2 linked regions of the Homo sapiens genome follow. The protein of the gene in region 1 interacts with the protein of each later gene in a pairwise test. Each region holds a gene or a part of one and is shown in the gene's direction. Other genes may lie near its edges.

Evidence for each region. The genes of interacting proteins can lie anywhere in the genome.
Region 2: the proteins of NUP58 (region 1) and DCTN3 interact in binary tests that used the Homo sapiens proteins (3 or more experiments, as listed by UniProt).

The regions. Positions count from the first base shown.
Region 1 is NC_000013.11:25,324,563-25,333,654, forward strand, and holds part of NUP58 (nucleoporin p58/p45), read left to right. Parts: intron 1-426; coding exon 427-506; intron 507-2,353; coding exon 2,354-2,472; intron 2,473-2,867; coding exon 2,868-2,950; intron 2,951-6,794; coding exon 6,795-6,996; intron 6,997-9,092. UniProt on the Homo sapiens protein: Component of the nuclear pore complex, a complex required for the trafficking across the nuclear membrane.
Region 2 is NC_000009.12:34,612,815-34,618,745, reverse strand, and holds the end of DCTN3 (dynactin subunit 3), read left to right. Parts: coding exon 1-70; intron 71-774; coding exon 775-861; intron 862-2,632; coding exon 2,633-2,716; intron 2,717-3,977; coding exon 3,978-4,036; intron 4,037-4,547; coding exon of another isoform or gene 4,548-4,644; coding exon 4,645-4,704; intron 4,705-4,844; coding exon of another isoform or gene 4,845-4,874; coding exon 4,875-4,964; 3' UTR 4,965-5,200; downstream 5,201-5,931. UniProt on the Homo sapiens protein: Part of the dynactin complex that activates the molecular motor dynein for ultra-processive transport along microtubules. Together with dynein may be involved in spindle assembly and cytokinesis.

The DNA.
Region 1 (9,092 bases):
TTAGCATAGTGTTTGGTACATAGCAAGCACCCAAATGTTAATTGTGCCTGCCTCAGCCTCAACATTATTATTGCCACCTGCCTTTTAAAAAAAAAAAGTATTTTCTGCGTTTATATTAATGATTTTAAGTAGTAGTATAATCTTTACGCTGTAAATGAATTCACTTCGTGAATCCTACAGAAATCTATAGTTTTAAAAATAGATCTACAGCTCTTTATAAGTTTGTTAAAACTGTAATTTGTCTGCTCTTGAAAGGTTTTAGCAACTTGTGAAGCAGCTTCATCCATAATATGTTCTTATAGCATGAACCTCCAAGGTATTGTTTGAAGTTTCAGTCCAGAGACTGAATATTTTTTTTCGTACGGTATTTTTAACATAACTCTTAACTGGCTTTTTTTTTTTTTTTTAAATCCTCTGGTATATTAGGAGTTGAAGAATGCTGAAATAGCTTTAAGAACCCAGAAGACACCACCTGGACTTCAACATGAATATGCAGCTCCTGCTGAGTAAGTTGCTGGATTTTTAAAAACAAATGTTTCTCACTTTCAGAAAGCAGAACAGTAATAATAGTATACAAACTAAATATTTTTAGTATACTATGTGGAAAGGCTGAGCCAATAAGCACTTTACATGGATTTTAAATTTCATAATAACCCTAAAAAGGTTTATCTCCATTAACACCATTTGACTGCAGGGTAAGTGAAGGCTAAGATCTGAGCTTTTCACCACTATTACGCATTTATACTTCATGTACATATTACTTACAGAGTCTACTCCATTTTATTAAATTTTACTGGTAATGGAAAATTACCATTATTCATTTAAATAGGTAATACGTGTTCTGGAAGAAAAATTAGAAAATATACATAAGTAGAAGAAAAAACCAACCTGTAATCACATCACTCAGCTTGTATATATACATTTGGCTTTCATACATGTAAAATATATCTTGCCTGTTTATGTCCTTCCATGTTGATGAAGATAATAATAACTGATGTTTACCAAATGCTTACTATTTCCCATGCAGTGTGCTTAGGACTATACATGCTTTACCTTCATATTTCACAAGATCTCTGTAGCTGTTGTTATTCCAGTTTTAGCGATAAAGAGACTGAGGTATGCAAAAGTGAGTTGAGTGGTGGAGGTCTGTTTGATTCCTGGTCCCTCACAATTAATTAATTAACTTGTAGAGATGCCATTTCACAGTGTTGCCTAGGCTGGTCCTAGGCTAAAGTGATTCTCCCGCCTCAGACTCCTAAAGTGCTGGGATTACAGATGTGAGCCACCACGCCTGGCCCCTTACTTATTTTATTCTTTTAGTTTTTTATTATAATTTTGGTCTACAGAAAAGTTTCAAGATGAGAACTAAAAATTCCTGTATGCCTTTCATTCCAATTTCCTACATATTAACATTTTTACCATATTTTTGTTCCTCACATTCTATGTGTGTATATACATTTCTCCCCCAAACAGTTTGGGTTATTTGCAGAAATAATGTTCACTATGCTAAAGTACTTCAGTGGATATTTCTTAAAAATAAGGATATTCTCATACTTAACAGTTCTCAAAATCAGGAAATTCATAATGCCCATGATATTCGTCTTACTCAGGTTGGCATGAGATGTGCTTCCTCACTGGACTTCCTCTACTATTTTATCCCTCTGTCTTGTACTTAATACTGCCATCAGAGCTAATTTTGCAAAATGCATTCATGGTTGCCCATTGTTTACTGAAAGACATTCAGATTCCTCTGTATACTATTCAAGATACCTTCTTTTTTTTTTTTTATCTGTCTAGCACTCTCTGTGGGTAAATTTATTAGAAAAGTAGCAATAATTACATGTGCTTTCTGTAGTATACTATGGTGTTCTCAGATTATAAATTTCATTGATAAAATGACTATAAATTCTTAATTCTGAAATCTGGTTGGTAGACGTTTCTACTTTATTTTAAATTTATTTTAACCTTACAGAAAACTTCCAAAATAGTAGTACAGAGAATTTATTTATATCGCTTCCCTTGCTTCCCCTAATGTTAACTTATAACTATAGTATAATTACCAAGAACAGGAAACTAAAATTGTTACAATATTATTAACTAAACTACTAAACTTACTGAAATTCAACCAGTTTTTCCACTAGTGTACTTCTGTTTCAGCATCCTATTTGGGATTCACAGTGCATTTGTAATTTCTCCTTAATATCTTCCAGTCACAGTTATTCAGTCCTTCCTTTCCTTGGATAACCTTGATACTTTTGAAGACTATTAAATGATTGCAGAATATTCCTTAATTTGGATTTGTCACTCCAAATTAAAAAAATATTTGATCTGACTTTTTAAATGTTTTTTAAAGCTACTTCAGAATCTTGGTTCAGCAATTTGAGGTACAGCTTCAGCAGTACAGGCAGCAGATTGAAGAACTAGAAAACCATCTTGCCACTCAAGCAAATAATTCACATATAACCCCTCAAGGTAACATGCTTACTGTGGTAATTTTTTTTGAACTTTTGTTTGTAGGAGATAGATGTGGTTATATAATAGGTATTTTGGATAACTACTGGTAGCCCCTTTAAGAAAATTTCCTTAAAAGTCATTTACTACTCCTTTATTCCCTATAAATATAATATGCTTTATTATATGAATTGTTACTGTGGTAACAAGGACAGAAATCTTAGGGCCTTCCCCCCAGATTTCTTTTGTAGACATTCAGTCTGCTACTCTGTGTGTTCTCTGGCCATGAGAACGTTGATAGAGTTTTTTTCTCCTACACGTTAACTGTGCCAAAAATTGGACTCAAATAGAAAAATAAAATGGATTGTGCTATATATATGTATATATTTGGGTGATAATGTAATTTTCTTTTATAGATTTGTCAATGGCTATGCAGAAAATTTATCAAACATTTGTAGCTTTAGCGGCACAACTTCAGTCTATTCATGAAAATGTAAAGGTAAGTTTTCATTACCCATTTATCTACCTGGATATGTAGACCCAAGTATTTGTTCATCTGGGGACAAATGTGTCCATGCTTGATACAGAAATAGCTAAAATTACATATAAGTGAAAAGATGAAAACTACTATAATCCATAACATACCCAGACATAACGATTGATAATACCTGTTCTTTTAAAAAAGATCCAAGTACGCTGTAGTCTGTTATTATAACTTTTTTTTAAGCAGTGCATTGTGAATAACTTTCTATGTTAATACACATATTTCCTGAATATCATTTTTAATAGTTAACATAGGAGTTTGTTGTATGGTTGTACATTGTTTAACCCATTTTCTGTTGGATATTTAGGTGGTTTCTATTTCTTTACTACTATAAATAGCACTATAGAAAATAGGCATTCTTAGTCAGGCACAGTGGCTTACACCTGTAATCCCAGCACTTTGGGAGGCCGAGGCGGGCGAATCACAAAGTCAGGAGTTCAAGACCAGCCTGGCCAATATGGTGAAACCCCGTCTCTACTAAAATTACAAAAATTAGCCGGGTATGGTGGCGGGCACTTGTAGTCCCAGCTACCTGGGAGGCTGAGGCAGGAGAATCGCTTGAACCCAGGAGGTGGAGGTTGCAGTGAGCCGAGATCACACCACTGCACTCCAGCCTGGGCAACAGAGCAAGATTCCATCTCAAAAAAAAAGAAAATAAGCATTCTTAGTAGCAAATGATTTTGTACTACCTTAATTTTATCTGTTTTAAGTGTTTATTGGCCACTGCATTAAAAACCGGCTTACAGCATTTCTCCCTTTTAAATACAGGGAACTGTTTGTGTTTATTAAATAGTGTAAATAAAATGATTTATCACTGAATATTTAGACTGACTCTCGCTTTTTTTTTTTTTTTTTTGAGACAGACTCTTGCTCTGTCGCCCAGGCTGGAGTTCAGTGGCATGATCTTGGTTCACTGCAACCTCCACCTCCTGGGTTCAAGTGATTCTCATGCCTCAGCCTCCTGAATAGCTGGGACTACAGGCACGTGCCACCATGCCTGGCTAATTTTTTGTATTTTTAGTAGAGACAGGGTTTTGCCATGTTGCACAGGCTGGTCTCGAACTACTAAATTCAGGCAATCCTCCCTCCTCGGCCTCCCAAAGTGCTAGGATTTATGGGCATGAGCCACTGCACCCAGCCTGAATATTTTGACTCTCATAATAACGTTAGTTTTAAAAATGTATTTAAGTGAAATGTTCAAGGTAAGTACATCTTTTCTAACTAACTGAGCAAATGTAATTAAACTCTTTAATCTTGGAGTGTATGTGGTCCAAAATACCTTTAAAATTCAAGCAGCGAAACCTGAGTCTAGATAAATTATCAACTGTGTAGAATAGAGTTTAATTGGAATTATCAACATTTTCATTTTTATTTTGATTTCATGCATAGTAACAGGATTTTTTTAAGTAAACCATTTAAATTACACCATTTTTGAAATGGTAGTGCACTTTAGACCTTTTGCTTTAGTAGATTTAAAACTGTAACCCAAATCTTTAAATTTTGTTCTAAAGGAGGAATTTTATCAGATTTAAAAAAATTCTATTAGTCTATAATAAATGTTACTTTAATTTTTTAATAAAATTAATGTATGGCACTTTGAAGTCCGTTGCACAGAATTCTTTTCCTTAATTTTTATTATGAAATCTTTCAAATATACACAAAAGTAGGCTATCATTATACTGAATGCCCAGGTATGACTACCTAATTGCAACCATTATCAAAACCCTGCTGAACTTGTTTTATCAATGCTCCACAGAAGATGCTTTTTTTCCCCCCACGAAGTATTTCAGAGCAAATGCCAGGTGTAAACGTACATTTTTTTTAGCAGCACTGTCTCCTCTCTGGTTTGGAAAATATATCATTTTTGGTAATATGACCATAAAACAGTGAGACCAAGACCACATAAAACTGCCCTAGATCACGTCAAATAAACGTTGTAGACATGAAATTTTGACCTACTCTTTAAGCAACCCAGGAACGAAAGGATATTCCCAAGAACCAAAGAATATTTTATAATCAGATTTGGTATGTTGCCATTATTTTTAGCTTAGTTTAGTGAGCAAACTAAGCTCTAGGTTTCTTTATTTCTTGTAGAAATCTCACAAGACATTTTTTTGTTCGTTTTGTTTTTCATTAGGTAATCTGTTGAAACAGGCGTTAACTATTCTATCCAGCCAGGCCTCAGGAACATTAACACATTTGGAAGTTTTAGCAATTTGTTTTATAAATCATGGCTGATGTCAAGGTTTTTGTTTGTTTGTTTTATTATTTTGTTTTGTTTTGTTGAGAAGGGCTTGCTCTGTTGCCTATGCTAGAGTGCAGTGGCGTAATCATGACTCATTGCAGCCTCAATCTCCTGGGCCCAAGCGATCCTCCCGCCTCAGGCTCAGCCTCTTGAGTAGCTAGGACTACAGGCATGCACCACCACACCTAGCTAATTTTTTAACTTTTTGTAGAGAGGGGCACTTGCTGTGTTGTCCAGGCTGATCTTAACTCCTGGCCTCAAGGAGTCCTCCTGCCTAGACCTCCCTAAGGGCTGGGATTATAGGTGGGAGCCACCGCGGCCAGGCTGTTTCTTTTAACTAATGGTCTTGGTCTTAAGTTTCTAAGGTGGATCATTATTTTCCATTATCTGAAGTAGAACTAAAATTTATGGGATACTGATGCTTGCCCAGGACAAGGAAGGGTGGATTTGCAAGAGATCGGTAGTGCTTGTTTTTCTTACATCATATGTCTTGATTCTGGCTTTGTATCTTCCCCAGTATCCAGTTCTTGGCAGGCCCCCTTTTTTAATACATCATAAATGTAGCAAAGTTTGGAATTGGAACATCAAACACTGACATCCACACAAAAAGGGCGATGATAGCTTTTAAATACTATAAACAACAGTAAGATTTTTAAGTGCTGTATTTGTTATAATCAGAACCTAATGTTTACTAATTTCTGCTAAGAAATGTAAGAAATATGAAAAATCTGTGTCTCTTCAAAAAGTGGTTAAAAACCTATCTAAATTAGGCTAAATCTTCAATGAAAGCATAAAATAATTCTAAAGTGAAACAGAATTGTTGCTGTTGATGGCCTTAATCAAAGCAGATGCTGCATTGGGTAAAAGCAGCTCACTTTATGAACTTGGGAATTTTTCTTACTCTGGAGTTACAAACACTTTTTTTCTTTGAGGCGGGTGGTTGGGTTCATAACTTTAACATGAATCAAGTCTCATTGTACAATGGTCAAATAATAGCAATAAAGTAGAAGCCCTCATCATACCCTCCAACCACTGCTGAGGTGCAACACCTTATTTTAGCATGTGTTACCCAGGCCTTCTAAAAAATGTATTTAAAAGTATGTATATTTAGTGCTGACTTTTTTTTCTTTCTTTTTTTTTTAAACTGTTTTAATCAAAAGGCTATGAAAAGGTTGGACATTTGAGGGGAAAGTTTCTTGAAAAACTGGAATATTTATTTTTAAATTCTTTTCATCCATCCATCTGCACATTGATGGAGTATTTAAATATTACTCTGTCTAAAAGCTTAGCTGATTTATTTTAAACAAGGCCTCACAAAGACAGTATTTTAGGAAGCATATTGTAAAGATAGGGAGTAAACTATTCAAGGGAGCAGTAGAACTCTTGAACTCATCATTTCCTACACCAAAGTGCATTATTAGCACTCTAATTTGCAGTTTGGATTGAATGTATAATATTGGGACTGTCTTTGGTAATTTATGGTTATATTCATCCACATATTAACCATAGTCAATGTGAAACTTCATTTAGCCGTTTTGTTTATTATTCTTTTAGGTTCTGAAAGAACAGTACCTTGGCTACAGGAAAATGTTCTTGGGAGATGCTGTTGATGTGTTTGAAACAAGGCGAGCAGAAGCCAAGAAGTGGCAGAACACACCCAGAGTTACTACTGGACCCACTCCTTTCAGCACCATGCCAAACGCAGCAGCCGTTGCCATGGCTGCAACACTTACACAGCAGCAACAGCCTGCTACAGGTCTGAACGCATTCAAGTTATAGCTTCTTACTGTTCCAATGCAGAACATTTATGTGCGTTTTTATAAGTCTTCCATTTGTGTGAGCACTGAAGAAATTTCTATGAGTAGCTGTTCCAATACAATCTAAAATTGTGATGGACACGATTATAAACATACCTGATAAAAAAGGCAGGGTAGTCTTAGCAATAATTATACATCAATTAGATATTGAATATTGTGAATCTACTTAATGTTATTTGCTGTAATGCTATAAATGCCCTTTAGAACATGGTGTTTCACTAGTGAATTACATTTAAGAATAACATTAGATTCTGAAATCATGACTGTACCATTTATTGTTTTAAAGTCAGAGATCATCCATCCATTCTTTGAATTTTTCATATATGATACTGATAGGTGGTGCATTCTCATTTTCCTCATACATAGTGATTACAAAGTACCCACATTCAGGATGAAGTATGCTTTTATTGACTGAAGGTATGTTGAAGATCAATAGGCTTGTTTGTATGTATGTTGACTGTAAACAGAATACAAGCCCTCTAAACCAAATTTTGAAGATGATACATGCTAGAATTGTACCTTTCCAAGGTGAACAGAACAGCAAGAGCAGGAAAAAGATGTTTTGAGATGTGGATTGCACATTAAGGAGCAACTGGGAAGTTGAACAGATGAAAATAATTGGTGACATGGAAAGCAGATTGTTTTATTTCTTGGTTTAGTTACACTTCTAATTAGAGAAACATTTTTTGTGGTCATTCTACAGTGTTTTATTTGGTCCTGTGTCTTTCGGAGGTTAATAGTTATCTTAATCCTGCCATCCCTTTTGTCAGGTTTGAAGCTTGACATGGAAAAATAGTCTTAATCGATATTGATTTTTTTATTTTAATCATTCATAAATTTCTTAGTAATGCTTACTATTCAATAGCATGTGTCTTTCTGAGAGTTCCATATAGTCCAGTAGTACATTATAATACACACAAAAAAATTAATACATATTTAGATTGCATTCAAGCTACCTATACTAGGGAAGCATTCTCTGGTTTTCACTATTGGCAGTTTAAAAAATTGTTCTTCACATTTGGAGATGACAGAATTGACTTGCCATAAGTAAAGGGTTGATGATAGATTTATGCCAAATCCTCCATATCCCGTGGCTGGACCCATGTGAATAGTGGCTCGCACGAGCACTGTCTGGTAGCTCTCTAGCTGGCTGGAGTGTAGGATTGCATTGTTAAGTTATGGAGGGAAAAAGTCATTATGGGATTGATTCCTTTGAGGATTGATATTTCTTCTTAAAAGGATTCAATCCCATAATTATGACCATCAGCTCTCATGATTACCTAACCAGTTAATCAAACCAACCATAGTACTAGTTTACTTTTTAGAGCCAGTATTAATCCTAAAGTAGATAAGTGTAGATTTGGTTAAGTGTTCTTTAAACATAGTGAATTTCCATTCTATTAAATAGAACTTGAGAAATGTCAGTTATATAAAAAGTTATGTTGTAAGTGAATATATTCTATGATAAATACCTAAACTTGAAGCAAAATCTCCTGTCAAGGGTTTGTGTGTGTGTGTGTGTTTAACTTTCTTATCTATAGATTATTATTTTGAGAAATTCATAGGTTTTCACTTATACATTTTGAGCTTGTGGACATATGGAGATGTGTGTTCATTCTCTAAATGAGTGCCTACTATGTGCTGGGCTCGAGGAATACAAAGGTAGACAATATAGATTTTGTCTTTGCCCTCTGTGGTGGTTGACAATGTTAGCTTAATCTGGAGTATTCTTGAGGAGCCTTTTGCTCATAGGCTTTAATTTTGTCTGTGACTTTTGCCAGGCTTTGGGGAAATTGACTGCCTTCACTCTTCCCTGAAACTTTGAAGTCCACATAAGGGCTTTCTCATCAGATGGCAGAAATTATAATTTATTAACCTAAACAACCTTACAGTGTTTTCGCTTTGAATTGTATGAATTCTTAGAACTGAGAAGCTAAACAACAGTGATAACAATTTTACATTATCTTTTCTTTCTCCTTTTGTTTCTCTAAAGGTCTCCCAGGCCTTCCCAGTCAAAATTTTCGTTATTTTTAGT
Region 2 (5,931 bases), on another chromosome or scaffold:
GTCAAGGTGCAGGTGGCTTTGGGGAACATTTCCAGCAAGAGGGAGAGGGTGAAGATTCTCTACAAAAAGAGTAAGTGCTTCCATGATGTGCCTGCCTGCCCGACATCCCACCCCTCAGCTTCCTGGTACCTGGCCCTAGCCCTTCAGTTCATTAGGTCACTGGAATAGCCCTTTGGGGATAGAAAGATTATGAGGACATTTACCTACACCCAATTCAATTGGTAAATTGTGGTGTGCTTTTCTACCTTGTGGCTAAACCTCAAGCCCATGACAGTGTCCTAAGTTATGAAATAAGAGCTCTACCTGAAAGCTTCTCTTGGTGAAGGAGGGTAAAAAGGGTATGGGATTTCCCAGGCAAGGTTAAGGGGCAGGAAACAAATTAGACACTGAGATCCTGGTTATGTCAGAACTAGTAACCTGCTTAGTAACTAGAAATTAGACAAAGCTCTGGCTTGTCTCGGTGACATCTAGGAGAAAAGAGGCCTTCTACCCTTGGTGAGGATAGGTCAGTGAGAATGCTAAGGGCCCAGAGTGGTGGTGGCAATTGTGTTTTCAGCTCTGAAGCTTGATGTCAGAAGAGACTTCAAGAGAAGAGAGTGGAGAGATAGGGAAGTGGGGATAGGGAGCCTGGTGGAGCCCTGCTCATGTGGCACTGTTGGGTATCAGCTCCTCATTGAAGGCTCTCCTCAAGGCTGACCACTTGTCAAACATCCTTCATAAGGCAGAGCTCTACTGCCCAACCCTATTCCATTTTCCATCTTGCTACTTTTCTAGTTGAAGATCTGATCAAGTACCTGGATCCTGAGTACATCGACCGCATTGCCATACCTGATGCCTCTAAGCTGCAATTCATCCTAGCAGGTAATGCTGGACTACATGTGTACATGCATCTGAGGATGTGGGTCGTCGGGGAGGTTAAGCACAGAGATGGCCTCTCCATCCAGTCTTCTGGTGGATACAAGCCCTGGATGCTGCTCTCTGGAATTGTGGCCTGGTTCTGGGTTGAGGATCCTATGGATCCTCTAGTAGACATTGAGTACAGTATACCTCTGCACCAGCTGCAGGCCATGGTGCCAGCCACAGTGGGAGCTAGTCCAGTGTTCTATCAATAGTTTGCCTCTTGGATTTTCCTTCAGAACCTTCCTCACTTCTGCTCACTAGACAGAGGAGCTTCTAGGAAAGGGTAGGGGCAGAGAGCATTGCCATTAAAGAACAGAGAGAGTATTGGCATGAGTTTCAACATCTTTCTTTCATGTGAGAAAGCTCTGCAGTGTCAGAGTTCTAGGCAGGAACTATTGCCTTGGCAATGTCTGCTAATCAGTCAGCCATTCTATAAGCTAGGGTTTTTTGAGCTTCGTTATTCATCCAAAAGATGTATAATGATCATCTACTCTGATCCAGGTTCTTTCCTAAGTGAGGAAGCATACAGTGGTGAACCAGAAAGTCCCTGCCCTCATGGGCACAGCCAGAGCTAGGGGAGACAGGGTCCCTGCTTCAGGGACCTGAGCTTATAACCCAGATGGGAGATCAGTCTCCCAGGAGACTGATCAGTGCAATGCAGCACTGAGGACTGGGTAAGGATGGGCCACTCCTGCTAAAAGGGCTGTCAGAGTTCCCAAAGGGCTCTTGGTCAATTGCCATCGCTCAAGCACCAAGTTTAGATATTCTCCTGCACTGACTCTTGAGTCCAGCCTCTCCATCCCTCCCTGTGGCACTGCCTCAGGAATTGTGCATCCACTTGCATATGAATGGTTGCACAGTCTCCTAAATCATACTCTTGACCCTAATCTTTCCCTTCCTGCATGTGGTTCAGTCTCACCCTCACAAAAACATGTTCCCAACATGTCACTTTGCCTACTTTGGAACCTCAGTGTATCCTGCCTTGCTAGGATAAAGTCCTAATTCCATAGTCTGCCATTCAAAGCCTTTCAGTCGGCCGGGTCTACCCTCCCATCCAACTCTGTTTCCTGTGCTCTCCCTACTCCAGTTCAGCTAATTGAATTCTTTCTCCTCTACTAATTGACAGGCATTCCTGCCTCTAAGCATTTGCACGTAACAGTCCTCTCTCTTGAATACCCTTCCCACTCTATGGATTTCAGTGCATTGAAATCCCGTGTGCATACAGGGCCTAGCCCAGATCCTGCTCTCCTCACTGGACTCTTCCATTACTGTCCCAGCTCTCCTCCAGCATATAATTGTCTATGCCTCTGAGAGCCACTGAGCAGAACCTGCCTGGCGTAGTCTGCCACATATCTCTTTTAGACCTTCCTGGGGACCCTTGGGTGTGGGGATCCAAGTCTGAAGTATTTTGTATTTTGTGGCCTAGGAGGTGCTCCCTGAGTTTGTTGATAGGAGGCTAGAAGAAGAGGTCTTGAAGTTAAACCTTGGAGAAAGGTGGGATTTGGAGAAATTGAGAGGCTCATTAGGCTCAGATGGGTCAGACCTGAGGCATCCAGGAGAGTTGGGGGCAGGATGGAAATGTGCACCTAGAGAAGGGGGCAGTGGACAGAGTCACTGTCCAAAGCTCTAGGACCTAGCCATCTCCCTTGCCAGGTCCTCAGGCCCTTACATGGGCTGATTAGCAATGCCCAGGTTTGCTTCACTGCAACTATCTTGTCCATTTTTGCTTTAGAGGAGCAGTTTATCCTTTCCCAGGTTGCACTCCTGGAGCAGGTGAATGCCTTGGTGCCCATGCTGGACAGTGCTCACATCAAAGGTATCTCTCTGGGGTTATAGCTTCACTACTCTGGTTGGGGAGGTAGGTGGATGGATGGGCAAGACTTTCCTGTGTTTCAGGTTGTGTGGATTCGGGTTGGGTCTGTTCCTTATCTTTTTTTTTTTTTTTTGGACAGAGTCGTACTCTGTCACCCAGGCTGGAGTGCAGTGGCATGATCTTGACTCACTGCAACCGCTGCCTCCTGGTTCAAACAAACTTCCCACCTTGCCTCCCAAGTAGCTAGGATTACAGGTGTGTGCCACCACACCTGGCTATTTTTAGTAGAGACGGGGTTTCACCATGTTGTCCAGGCTGGTCTCAAACTCCTGGCCCCATGTGATCCACCTGCCTCGGCCTCTCAGAGTGCTGGGATTACAGGCGTGAGCTACTGTGCCTGGCCTGTTCCTTATCTTTATCCTCACCCTGAGGTACTTGCCACATCCACCAATTAAAATTACCAGGATAGAGAGCCCAGTTTTAGGACCTCAGGCAATTTGGGCCTGAGAACACTAGCCTAAGCTCTAGCAGTCCCCAGCTCTGGGGATTCCTTCTGCCTTCTACCTACCCCCAAGCATCTCTTCTTCAAGGTGCTGCAGAACCCAGATTTTACTATCAGAGTCTCTGCCAGGTCCATGAATGTATGTGAATTCTTTCTGCTGCACTGCTGAGAGCAGTCCCTGGGCCTGGACTTTGACAAGCAGATAGTGGCTTTAATTGAATCCAGATATCCATCTTGTCTGTCTGTGGAGGTATTTTTCCCAGCTCCCCCTCCCTACCCCTGATCAGCTGCCCGCTGAGTATCTGACAGCCTTAAGCTTTGAGCCCAGCATGGTGGCCAAGCCTTGGCGTGTTGGATTCCAGCTTAGGGACCTGGCATCCATCTTCAGACTCCCTGTTCCCTAAGCCAGGCAGACCTGCCCCCGCTGGGCTGAGAGCAAAGGGACAGGTCCTATAATAGCCAAAGCTCTCTTTACCTGGTCCTGCTTATAGCACTGGGGTGGGGGTAGGGAGCAACACTGGGAACCCCAAGGTTTTGTCTTCTCCTCGGGACATGTATCTTCCCCTCCCCTATGGGTCCTGGAGTAAGACTGGAGTGGGCAGGGAGCCCCACTGCCACCTCCAGCTGCAGCAGTCGATGAAGTCTGGCGTTTGTTTAGCTTCTCCACTCAATACTCTAATCCTGCCAAAGACCTAATAGACTATTGAGCAGTCCCGGGGGAGGGCACAAGCATCATCCAGCAGTGTGTGTTGTGTTTTACAGCCGTTCCTGAGCATGCTGCCCGCCTGCAGCGCTTGGCCCAGATCCACATTCAGCAGCAGGTATGGGAGGGGAGATGACTAGAAGCGAAGATGGAGGTGGCGCAGCACCTCATCCCAACTCATGCCACCTGGGGAAGCAGCTTCAGGCCTTTCTGTTGTAACCTCAGCAGAAACTTTGGGGTTTATCCTTTATCTTGCATATGCCCCAGGGAGGTAAAGGGACTTGCCTAGGTTCATGTACAAACTTTCTGCTTCCAGAGCAGGACTTTATTGGGACACCATAAGGTTGAGGCTGGGAGGTACCCAAGAATTCCTGGGGATGGTATGTCATTGACTGTGGGTAGAGGGGCTCTTTTTTCACTATTCCCAGGCCCTAGTGTAAAGTTCAAAGAGAGTTCAGAAATAAGGACAGAAGAAGAGACATACACTAGGGGGAATGTTTACTTAATGTATGGCCACTCCCTTTTCCATCCGTCTTTGGACTGCTGTTAGGGCACCCATCCTGGAGCCTGAAAGTGCTCCCATAGCCATTTGCTCCTTTGGCTTTGGGGTTAAGCGTCATCTTTTTTAGGCTCCATGGGGAGTGGGAGTCCGTGATGAGGCAGGAAGTTTAGTGGAAGATGTGGGCTTTGCCCAGTTCCTTTCTGTGCTACACTTTGGCCCTACAGGACCAGTGTGTGGAAATCACTGAGGAGTCCAAGGCTCTCCTGGAGGAATACAACAAGACTGTATCCTTTCTGCTCAACTAGGACCCTAATGGGTGCTGTCCCTAAGCCCTGTCCTTTTGTTCCACCTCTAGCTCTCTCTCATCCTATCCTACCCACCTATGTTTGCCTGTTCCCCACTTTCCATGAACTTCCTCACTCAGATTCCTATTCTCACCTTGACCTACAACCAGACAATGCTTCTCTCCAAGCAATTCGTGCAGTGGGATGAGCTACTTTGCCAGCTAGAGGCCGCCACGCAAGTGAAGCCAGCAGAGGAGTGATAGCTGCTCCCCATCCCAAAGTGGGCCTGGGCAGTCAGGCTCCAGGGCCCTATGCCAACCTGCCTTTGTTACAAGGCAGAGGAAGCTTTGTATTTATTGGCTTCAAGGCCCACCTCTCTGTACTCTGGGCTCTAAAGTTGGAGGTCAGGTTACCTGAGGTTTGCAATTTGCAACACCCACCCTCCCCCCAATCAGTGTTCTTATTTCAGTGACAATAAACCATAGAGATGACTGGAGGAGTGTGCTGGCTTCTTGGTCTAGGATGGAGGTGGTAGGGGGCAGAGGTGTCAGCCTGCCTAATCGTTTGACTGGGAACTAAACTCATCCTGGTCTGGCTTTCTGGCAGGTGTAGAGCTCTCAAAATGAAGGCTCTCATTTGATTATGTGAATAGGATATTCCTTTATGTATCCATTTATCCCACATTTACCAATAAGAGACCTCCAAATGTCAGATGATGGGAGTAGATAGGGCTAATCCCTGCCCTGCACGGGCTAGCAGGATAGACAGTAAAGGAAAAGGGCAGTCCTATCAGGTGGACACAGAAGAAAAAAGGGACTGAAGGGACCTGGTAAGTGATATCCAGGGACTTTCAGAGCCAAGGGAGCAGCATGTGCAAAGGCCTTTAAATTTCTCTCTTGGGAGCCTACCTGCTGCCACGAGCCGAGAAGGGCAGCCTAAGAGGTTTGGATGCAGGAAGTTTTGGTCCTGGGGAGGGGAAGTTGGGAAGTAGGGGCGCTGGGGCAAGCATGTTGAGAAACAGATTGGCACCGTAGTCCACCAAATGTTTGCTGCCCCCTTGTGGTCTCAGGGAGTGCTCTGGCTCCAGACCCTTTTTCCAACGGCCCATTGGCCGCCCCGCCTTTGCGACCTCTCCGGCACCTCAAATTCAGCGTGTCCAAACCGATCTGAAACCTGGGAGTCACCCTAGATCGGAATTTCCTACTTCTCCGTCCAAACAGTGGCCAA